4 separate regions of the Homo sapiens genome follow, and regions 1, 3 and 4 are each linked to region 2. The links come from fine-mapping of genetic effects on gene expression. A gene starts in region 2. Each other region holds a variant in brackets. All regions are shown on one strand. Distances are between the middles of the regions.

Evidence for each region.
Region 1: its variant is fine-mapped to the expression of IFITM3-AS1 in whole blood (TOPMed, PIP above 0.99).
Region 3: its variant is fine-mapped to the expression of IFITM3-AS1 in spleen (GTEx, PIP 0.98).
Region 4: its variant is fine-mapped to the expression of IFITM3-AS1 in whole blood (INTERVAL, PIP above 0.99).

What each region holds. Positions count from the first base shown.
Region 1 is chr11:337,989-340,703 of GRCh38, forward strand. No RefSeq gene overlaps it. Among named protein-coding and RNA genes, the nearest start is that of IFITM3, 18 kb to the left of the region's middle. The variant A/G (reference allele first, on the strand shown) is at 1,037.
Region 2 is chr11:316,875-319,447 of GRCh38, forward strand. IFITM3-AS1 (IFITM3 antisense RNA 1) reads left to right here and starts at 1,586. Exons shown (of 5, transcript XR_007062540.1): 1 at 1,586-1,872. RefSeq lists enhancers at 1-442, 787-1,146, 1,557-2,112, 2,113-2,573.
Region 3 is chr11:1,051,886-1,054,600 of GRCh38, forward strand. It overlaps LOC124902605, which reads left to right. Exons shown (of 4, transcript XM_047427955.1): 4 at 2,354-2,715. LINC02688 (long intergenic non-protein coding RNA 2688) reads left to right here. Exons shown (of 4, transcript NR_160890.1): 3 at 2,354-2,507. Among named protein-coding and RNA genes, the nearest start is that of LINC02688, 3.4 kb to the left of the region's middle. The variant G/A (reference allele first, on the strand shown) is at 1,594.
Region 4 is chr11:353,600-356,314 of GRCh38, forward strand. No RefSeq gene overlaps it. Among named protein-coding and RNA genes, the nearest start is that of B4GALNT4, 15 kb to the right of the region's middle. RefSeq lists silencers at 1-57, 2,526-2,715 and enhancers at 720-1,296, 802-1,091, 2,278-2,715. The variant C/T (reference allele first, on the strand shown) is at 1,665.

The DNA.
Region 1 (2,715 bases), 21 kb after region 2:
TAGCTAATATATATATATATATATATATTTTTTTTTTTTTTTGGTAGAAAGAGTCTGGCCATGTTGCCCAGCCTTAGAAGTCTTTTTAATTTCTTTTTCGAGATGGAGTCTTGCTCTATCGCCCAGGCTGGAATGCAGTGGTGCGATCTTGGCTCACTGCAATCTCTGCCTCCTGGGTTCAAGTGATTCTCCTGCCTCAGCCTCCCGAGTAGCTGGGACTACAGGCATGACCTACCATGCCCGGCTAATTTTTTTGGATTTTTAGTAGAGACGGGGTTTTGCCATGTTGGCCAGTCTGTTCTCAAACTCCTGACCTCAGATGATCCGCCCGTCTCGGCCTCCCAAAGTGCTGGGATTACAGGCGTCAGCCACTGCTCCCGACTAGAACTTTTAATACAGAATTTCAGATTTGACTTTGAAAACCTCTTGAGCCTAGAAAGCCATGCCATTCCATCAGACTTTTCCTGCAATACTGTATTAGTCCATTTTCATGCTGCCAATAAAGACTGAGCAATTTACAAAAGAAAGAGTTTAATTGGACTTAGAGCTTGCAGTGAGCAGAGATTGTGCCACTGCACTCCAGCCTGGGCGACAGAGCAAGACTCTGTCTCAAAAAAAAAAAAAAAAGCACACCTTCATACCTTATAATTTTTTTTTGTTTTTTGAGACTGAGTCTTGCAATCTCTGCTCACTGCAACTTCCACCTCCCGGGTTCAAGCAATTCTTCCCCCTCAGCCTCCCAAGTAGCTGGGATTACAGGCGTGCACCACCACATTCGGCTAATTTTTGTATTTGTAGTAGGGATGGGCTTTCACCATGTTGGCCAGGCTGGTCTCGAACTCCTGACCTCAGGTGATCCGCCCCCCTCAGCCTCCCAAAGTGCTGGGATGACAGGCTTGAGCCACCACAACCAGCCTCTTATAACTTTCCTTACCCAAAATTCGCCTTCCTTTGTTTGTATATTCTGCATACAGAGCTGCTTCCCTTATTATTTCTCGTAATTTTAATTACCATATAATTAGAATTCTAAACACTT[A/G]GTAACTTTAAAAGCTTTTCTTATCTTTTTTTTTTTTTTTTTTTTTTTTGAGTCAGGGCCTTCTTCTGTTGCCCAGACTGGAGTGCAGTGGTGCTATCACAGCTCACTGCAGCCTCAACCTCCCAAGCTCAAGTGATCTTCCCACCTTAGTCTCCCAAGTTGCTGGGACCACAGGCATGTGCCACCATGCCCAGCTTTTTTTTTTTTTTTTTTTTTTTGAGAGGAGTCTCACTCTGTCACCCAGGCTGGAGTGCAGTGGCGCGATCTTGGCTCACTGCAACCTCCGCCTCCCGGGTTCAAGTGATTCCCCTGCCTCAGCCTCCCGAGTAGCTGGGACTACAGGTGTCCACCACCATGCTCAGCTAATTTTTGTATTTTTAGTAGAGATGGGGTTTCACCATGTTGGCCAGGATGGTCTCAATCTCTTGACCTCGTGATCCACCCACCTCAGCCTCCCAAAGTGCTATGATTACAGGCGTGAGCTACCACACCCAGCCCAGCTAATTTTTATTTTTGGTAGAGATGGGCTGGTCTGGAACTCTTGGCTCAAGTGATCCTCCCACCTCAGCCTCCCAAAGTGTTGGGATTACAAGCATGAGCCACCACACCAGCTATTAACCTTGGTTTCTAGTGAAAACTAGCAAGTAAACACTTGTCAACTTTTTGCATACATACCAACATTCTGCAGATTGGCAAATCTGTGAATATACCATGTCATAATTTCTAGAAGTGTGTGTTTCTTTATCATACAATTTTTCAATATGGCACAGGATGTGTTTGCTGGCAGAGACAAGTATGTTTAGTACTTCTATAATAAGAAGCCAAAAGTAGACAAGCTTATGTTTAGCAATCAAAGTTTCAGTATTTTATGTTATTCAAAAAAAATAAGGTTTAAAAAATATCTTTCTAGATAGTCGATGAATAACCATCATTTAATTTAACTTGACTCTAACAGTGCAAGCTACCAAAGAGAATCGGCAAGCTGCTTTTAAGTAGATGTTTCATAACAGCAGACAAGGCTAGACATCATCAAATTGCTTTTCTTGGTGGCAACTCTTGTAACAGAGATAACATAAGTTTTTGCCTAATAAACCTAGGTAAAACCAAAGTTGTGTGTCTGCGTTTTATTTAATGCTGACAACTCTAAATATTTCATTAAACCAGAAAAGTTTAAATAGCATTTATTTACCAACTATAATCTCAGATGACATGAAATTTAAAAAACATTTGGGTTAGTTTCTATATTTCTAAGAGTTTAAGGATAACTCAACTTATATAAGCTCATATTTTTCTTTAAGCCAATTAAATACCACTTTTTTATAAATTAATTTTGGCAACGCAATCTAGAGTAGGAAAATGTCACGTGTACATGTATACATAGACATACATAAACATACAGACAGAAGCAGATCATATAGCTTTCTTTTTTTTTTTCACACTCTTCAGACACTAGAGTGTTACAGCTTCATTCTAAAATCTTAGCCACATGCCAAGCACAGTAATACAAAACACACTGTTTAATACAAGAACAATAGGCTTCAAATCTTGTTTCTGGCACATGGAACAAGTCAAAATTACTTGCCAGATGATTAAAGCTTTTATTAATATTTGCGGGAAAGACTTAAGGTTTTTCATTTGCCCAATTTCCATATAGCTCTTTTTTTTTCTTTTCTCATAAG
Region 2 (2,573 bases):
AGGAGGTCTTGAGAACATGGGCCCAAGGTGGTCGGGGCCCAGCTTGGTTTTATATATTTTAGGAAGACATGAGGCATCAATGAAATACATTTAAGAAATACATTGAAAAAAAAATACATTGGTTTGGTCGGGAAAGGCGGGACAACACAAAGCTGGGGGGTGGGGGGGCGGCGCAGTGCCCCAGGCTACAGGTGAATTTAATCCTCTGGTTGACGATTGAGTCCTTGAGTTTGTCTAAAGACCTGGGATTGGTAGAAAGGGGGTGTTCAGGTTAAAATAAAGATTATGGAGACCAAAGTTCTTTTGAAGTCTTATAGTGGCTGCCCTTAGAGACAATAGATGACGAATGTTTCCTATTCCTAAAAGGTGCTAGACTGTTAATCTCTTCAGGATTGGGAGGGTCTGGAAGAAAAAGATTTAGCTATGTTAATAGAGATTCTTTACAGCTGCAAATTTCCCCCTACAAAGAACAGCTTTGCCGGGGCCATTTCAAAATATGGCAAAGAAACTTGTTTTGGGGCAAAATATTTTTATTTTCTTCCTCATATCGTAATGTTCTGCCAGGGCCAGGTTGGAAAGTAAGTCATGATATACGTGGTTAAATAAAACCCATCTGATGAGAATTTATGGTTTGTAGGGCATGACTCCCCAAGCCCCTTAGGTAGGAATTTGGGCAAGATAAAAAATCAGAGTTTAGTCCTCAATCATGATGAGCTGCTGAGTTTCACACAAGGCCTGTTGTCATTTAAACTATAGCCTAAATGTCTCTCAAAGTCAGCTTGGCCCCAAAAACCAGGAATAATTAAAGGAAAGGCAAGATTGTGGGTGGGCTAGCTCAGCTCACAGTTATAATAATTCTTCTCACTGATACTGTTACAGCAGGTAGCTCCTCCGGCTTGAGCAGGACAGGAGAGCGCTTCCCACCCACAACCAGGAATGTCAGGCGACCCCTCAGGTGATGGTCAGGTGGTTGTTGCACTGTTTCTCTAAAATAATAATTGGTAGCAACCAGCGCCAAGGAAAGGCAGTCTCCCAGTAGATAGAAAAAAACCTGAAACGTGGTCAGGTTTATCCACAATCTTGCTCATGTGGTCCTGTGGCCCCCACCGAGGAGCTGGGTTAGGGTTGGGAAGACAGCTTCGACTCCCCAAGACTTCATCTCCAACCGGACCGGTCAGCGCTCCTGACTCACTGGCCGCCTACCCACCATATCATCCTTCGAAACTCGGATCCCCACGTTTTTGGGGAGAAGGATTTGAGTAATAATAAAACTCCCGTCTCCCCCGCAGCCGGCTCTGCGTGAATTACACTTTCCTTATTGCGATTCCCCTGCCCCGATGCGACCAAGGGGCCCGCCCAGGAGCGCAGAGAAACCATTAAGGGGTCACAGGACCGGGCTCCCAGGGTGACTCCCTGGCCACCAAGTCCTCCAGCAGGTCACTCCTGGATTCCGGCTGGACCCCCTGCCCAGGGAGGGGCCCAGGAGACGCGGAAATCGGGTCCCCCGCGGGTGAAGGGGAGGTGGGAGCCCCAGAGGAGGGCGGGAAGGCTCGGCCGGGGACGTGCCCGAGGGGGAGGAGAGGGGCTCCCGTCCGGGTCCGGCGCTGCGGGTCTCAGGGTCCGCGTCCCGCCCACCCCGCGGGGGTCTGGGCTGCGGGCGGAGCCTCCTCCGGGACCTGCACCTGCGCCGGCCGCCGCCAGGGGCGCCGCTGAGCACCCGCCTCCGCCGCTTCCCCCTCCCCGCCGGGCGGGGCCGCGCGCCTCCCACCCGGGACCCACTTCGGAGTTCGCCCCCTTCGGGACTCGCCTCCGGGAGACCCCCGAGGGGGAGAGGGCGCTTCCTCCGCGTCCATCGCCCTTGCCGCCCCTGGGGTGAGAGCGCGGCTCCGGGGCTGGGGGCGGGAAAGGGTGGGGAGGGCGAGTAGATCCAGACCTGGAGTCGCGGGTGGACGGCGGGGCGGGGGCGCGCATGGCCACCCCAGCTCCCACCGCGGCCGCCCATGGGGCACCCCACATGCGCACACCGGAGACCGAACCGGGGAAGGGCGCTGTAACCAGGTCGGGGCGGGGGTGTCTGTCCGGGGGCTCAGACCCGGGTAGAGGTAACTTCGATGAGGGTCGCTCCACTCTCCTGCGCCGCCCCCACCACGGGGGAGCAGGGCCCATACCCGCTGGACGGGAGGGGGCAGCTGCCACGAAGCAGCACCTGGTCACCCAGGAGGGGCTGCGAGGCCCGGGGCTCCTTCAGCTGCTGCCCTGGGCACAAAGCCCCCTCCCTCCCACGGGCCCTGAGCTGCCCACATCTGCAGGACTGGCTGCTCCAGACAGCTCGGAGGCAGGCAGCGCGGTGCCCCCTCCACCCCGAGGAACTAAAGCCAGGTCCCCAGCACCACAGAGCAGGGCCTGGGAGCAGCTGGGGAGCCGGTGCCACCTTGCCCCTCCCTGGCCCTGCTGGGGGCTTAACCCTTCCCTCTGTCCTGAGCCGACAGCCTGGATTGCCGACAGGCCGCGAGCGTGGCCTTGGGCCCAGGGTGTCCCGGACTCAGCACTGACGTTCCCGGAAAGAGCCCACG
Region 3 (2,715 bases), 740 kb after region 2:
TGGACCCGACCCTGGTCCTGGGGCAGTGTCCCAGCTGCTGTGTCCCAGGCCCCCCATCCACTGCCCTTGGCCCACCTTCTATGTGGCCCATTAGAGGGGTGTGGGGGCTGCAACCTGCTTCTGCTGAACCCCTAGGCCTGCCAGGGGGCATCAGGATTCTGCACAGAGAGGCAGGGGACCCGGCCAGACATGCAGGTACCCACGTACCTAATTCTGGGCCTTGGGGCAAGGACTGCGTATTTATCCTGGCCCAGGCAAGTCTGGGGGTGTCTGAGGGGTGGTGAGACGTCTGGGCAGATTGTCCCTGCCCTGCTCTGCTCTGCCCCACCCTGGCCAGCCCTCCTGGCTTCTCAAGGTGCTCCTGGCCACGATGGCACAGTCCCCCAGGCCCAAAATGTGCCCCCATGCTGCCCGAATGCCAGTGCGGGGGCTGGTAGCAACCAAGGCCATGCCCTCCCCTCCCCCTCCTGGGGCACCTGCCCCCACGCTGTGGCCATGGCTCCCTGGCTCCACCAGCTTCTTGTGACCCCTGAGGCTCCCCAGCTCCTGGCCCCCCATGGAGAGTTCCCTCCCCATAAGGGGGGGCCAGACACCCCCCTGTGCCCACTCCTTGGGAGACTGGCATTAGATCCTGGCTGTGGGACAGGCTGGGCCACTCTGGGGGTGAGACCAGGCTTCTCCCACCTGGGGGACCCATCCTGGCTCCGGACTTGGGCGGGTGACAGCCTGGGTTTCCTGTGTCCTCACCGCCCGCTTATCAGCAAGATGGGGATGTGGATGACAGGAGTGCTGGCCACGGAGGGCCTGGTGTGGGTGGCCGTCGGGACGAGGGTAGTGTGGGCGGCCACGGCAGTTGGTGCTACTGCTGGGAGGGGCCGAAGGTGAGGCCCTCCTGGGCTGTGGGTCCCTGTAAGCCACTGCCCCCGTGGGGTGTGCAGTCACCAAGCCGACCTGCTGCCGGGGTTCCGCCCCCTCCCTTTCCCTTCTGCTTCCCCGGCACCTGTGTCCCAAGCCTGAAGCCCTGTCCGTGTCAGAGGTGGCACCTCCCTGGGCACGGGCACTTGGACGCTGGTGCCTCCCCTGCTGCGGACCCCTTTGCTGTGGTCAGGGCCTCCTCCCTGCACTGGCCCCGCCTGTGACCGCAGGCCTGGCGGGGCCCTCAATGGCCACAGAGGGCACAGGCCGGGGCCAGGAGGGCACCGTCTCCTGGGGCACAGATATGCTGGAGTGAGCTATGGAATTGTCCATCAGCAGCGGCAAGCTTTGCTGAGCGCCAGCTGTATGCAGAGCAAAGGCGGGCCAGCCGGGAAGGGCCAGTGAGGACCTGGAGTCCCCAGCATCCCCAGGAGCCTGCACCCCTACGCGGGGGACGCCTGGGCAGCTCCTCCCTCCTCCACTCCCCGCCCTCTCCTCCCCTCCTTCCTGCAGTTCCCACAGCTGTTTGGGTGCCTCCCGTGGCGCCTGGTTGAGCTGCAGGGGGAGATGTGTGTGGACACTGCAACCCTCCCGAAGCTGGGCCTGGAAGAAATGACTTCCCCAGAACCTTATCTGGGCCGGAGAGGGGCGTTGGCAGCGGGGGTCTTGCCGCCTTCC[G/A]GTCCTCTGCATGCCAGGCACCACCTGGGGCCGGGCCAGGGCAGGCTGCCTGGACACCATGGACCTGCCCAGCTGTAGGGGAGGTGTGTCCTGCAGCCCTACCCGAGGCCCAGGCCTGCGTGGCTGAGAGGACTGAGGACGGCTGACCCCCTTGGTGACTGCCTGGGCCCAGAGGGGAGTTGGGGGAGTGGTCAGCTGGGTGTGGCCAGCCCTGGGGGAAGGATCCAGGGACTGTGTCCACTTAGGGATAGGAGGCAGCTAGCAGAGCCCTCCCAGCTGACCAGGGGAGGCCCTGTGGGCACAGGAGGGGCCCCAGGTGTAGGTACAGGTGCAGGGCTGTGCGGCTCTGTGTCACCCAGGTGGAGCGTCTTGCCCCGTTTGATGGCTGACAAAGTGCCCTTGAATGCGTCAGACCCAGCGTGGTCCCAGGGTCCTGACCCTAACATACCACCCCAAATTACCCTCACCCCAGCCTACCCCTGCCCTAAATTCACCCCAAGCCTCCACCCAAACCCCTTAGTCCCAACACCTTAACCCTAGACCCAACCCTACACCCCAAGCCCTAATCCCTAACCGCTAGCCTCACCCTAACCTTCCTACCGGATGCCACCTGGCAAACATCCTCCTGGCCCCTATCTGCCCCTCCCCCGGGGATCCGGGAGGCAGTGGGGTCCCTGGGAGGCTGCTCCCTGCAGAACGCGATGGACAGATGCATGGGCACCGGGCCCCAGCACCCTCTGGCTTCCTTCATCCTCCCCAGGCACTTCCCCCGGGCCAGAGGGCAGCCTGGCAGCCCTGGACTCCGGGAGGGCCGAGTCTGGGGAGCTGGACGACGTCACATTCCACTCTTGATGATGCCGCCCCAGTCCTACAATCTGGACAGCAGGAGAAGCTGCCCATTTCCTCCATCTCCGGTAATGAGAAGCAAATGCTGATCCTGGCCGTCTCCTGGCTCTTGGGTCCCTAGGTTCCTGCTGCCCCTGCCAGTTCCTGGAAGATGCCAGCAGGAGGGAGGGCAGTGGAGCTGGACTTGCGCCCACAACAGGATCTGGCCATAAACGCAGTCAGGGCGAGGCTGCGGGGTGGGTGGCTGAGCCTCCTGGTGGACTATCTCCCCTCCCA
Region 4 (2,715 bases), 37 kb after region 2:
CAGGACACTATTTTCATGACGAGGTTCTGGGTTTTTCCCTGATGTTTGTTTCCTCGGTTTTTTTGTTTGTTTTTCCCTTCCCAGTATTTTTGGACTTGAACTTTAGAACTTCAACTTCTCTGAGGTTTAGCTTGGCGGGAGGAGGGGGATTAATTACCGTACCGTAATTTCTCCTGGGATACTGGATTTGGGAAAGGGTATATATCCTAATTTGCCATTCTGAATTGGTTGCATTTGATTAAAAGCATGACTTCTATCATGGAGGGTCCAGCCCTACGGGGCTTGGCGGGTGTTCTCCCCGTGTGTGGAGACGAGAGACCGGAAGAAATAAATACACAAGACAAAGAGATAGAGAGAAAACAGCTGTGCCCGGGGAACCACTACCACCAAGATGCGGAGACCGGTAGTGGCCCCGAATGGCTGGGCACGCTGATATTGATTGCATACAAGACAAGGGGGCAGGGTAAGAACGGTGAGTTGTCCAAGTGATTGATAAGGTCAAGCAAGTCATGTGACCATAGGACAGGGGCCCTTCCCTTACAGGTAGCGGGAGCAGAGAGGGAAGGCAGCATACGTCAGCGTTTTCTTCTATGCACTTTTAAGAAAGATCAAAGACGGCCGGGCGCAGTGGCTCACGCCTGTAATCCCAGCACTTTGGGAAGCCGAGGCAGGCAGATCAGTTGAGGTCACGTGGCCAAGACCAGCCTGGCCAACATGGTGAAACCCTGTCTCTACTAAAAATACAAAAAATTAGCCACGCATGGTGGCAGGCGCCTGTAGTCCCAGCTATTTGGGAGGCTGAGGCAGGAGAATGGTGTGAACCCAGGAGGCGGAGCTTGCAGTGAGCCGAGATCGCACCACTGCACTCCAGCCTGGGCGACAGAGCAAGACTCTGTCTCAAAAAAAAAGAAAAAAAAAAAGAAAGAAAGAAAGATCAAAGACTTTATTTCTTCTACCGCTATCTTCTAAGAACTTCAAAGAGGAACCAGGAGTAAGGGAGGAGCATGAAAGTGGACAAGGAGTGTGATCATTCAAGCACCACAGGGAGGGGGTTAGGCCTCCGGATGACTGCGGGCCAGGCCTGGAGAATATCCAGCCTCCCACAAGAAGCTGGTGGAGCAGAGTGTTCCCTGACTCCTCCAAGGAAAGAAGACTCCCTTTCACGGTCGGCTAAGTAACGGGTGCCTTCCCAGGCACTGGCGTTACCGCTTAACCAAGGAGCCCTCAAGCGGCCCTTATGTTGGTGTGACAGAGGGCTCACCTCTTGCCTTCTAGGTCACTTCTCACAACGTCCCTTCAGCACCTGACCCTATACCCGCCGGTTATTCCTAGGTTATATTAGTAATGCCACAAAGAGAAATATTAAAAGCTAATGACTAATAATGTTTATACTGATTGATAATGTCCACGATAAAAGCTAATGATTAATAATGTTTATACTAATGATTGATATGTCCATGATCATCTCTAATTTGTATTATAACTATTCTTATTCTCTTTATTATACTGAAAGTTTGTGCCTTGTCTTTTTTTTTTTTTTTTTTTTTTTTTTTTTTTTTGAGACAGAGTCTCGCTCTGTCGCCCAGGCTGGAGTGCAGTGGCGCATCCGGGCTCACTGCAAGCTCCGCCTCCCAGGTTCACCCCATTCTCCTGCCTCAGCTTCC[C/T]GAGTAGCTGGGACTACAGGCGCCCGCCATGTGCCTTCAGTCTTTTGCCTCCGCACCTGGGTAATCCTCCGCCCACACTATCACATGCCCTGAATAATGGGGTTAAGAACAATTTGGGGTGGAAAACAGGGTAGGAAGGGAACAGATGGCTCAGAACACAGGAAGTTAATTTAACTGCAGTCCAGGGAGGATGGCATTCTGGAAGCCGAGTCGGCCTGAGGTCTAAGGGGCGGAGGGAACTCCAAGCTTGGCCTGGAGCTCAGGGAAGGGAGCTCGCGTGGACTTCAGGAGCCCGGTGGGTGCTTCCTGTGCACAAACGGGCAGGGTCTGAGCTCCCACCGTCTGGAAATGCTGCCCAGTGGATTTCAGCCTCATTTTACCCAGCTCCCAATCAAGATGGAATTGCTCTGGTTCAAACGCCTAGCTTCGCCAGCTAGGGGGTGAACCGGCCACAGATCCCCGGAGGCCAACAGAAGACAGAGCCCCTGGGTCAGAGGCAAGGACGGTTGACTTCTCAGGCAGGGAGGTGGCCAAGGGAACCGCTTCTGCGGCGGCTTCCCAAGCCCCAGCTCCCGCAGAAGGCCTGGAGGGGCCCGGGGACCCGTGCCACGCAGTGAGTGGCGGCAGGACACGAGCCCGGGGGCGCAGCTTCCTGGACACTCTGCCCCCAGACACTGGCTGCCACGCGGGACGGTGACCAGCGCTGCCCTCGGCGCCCGGGAGGCCTCCCAGGGCTGTGCGCCAGGAAAACATTCCCGAACCGACGGCCGGGAATGGAACGGGGCGGGGCGTTTCCCAGCCCGAGGAAAACAGCCCTGAAAGCGCGGCCAGGAATGGATGGGGGTGGGGCGTTTCCCAGCTGCTCTCCAGGGAGCCGCCTGGAGCGGGGGAAGGGGGGGGCGGCGCGTTCCAACGGTGGGGGGGCTCGTTCCAACGGTGGGGGGGCGGGTCTGCGTTTCGGGCCCCCAGACACGCAGCACGCGGAGGAGCGCCCCGCCCCGTCTAGAGCCCCTTCCTCCACAGCAGGGCCGGGGCGCAGGGGGTCTCCCCG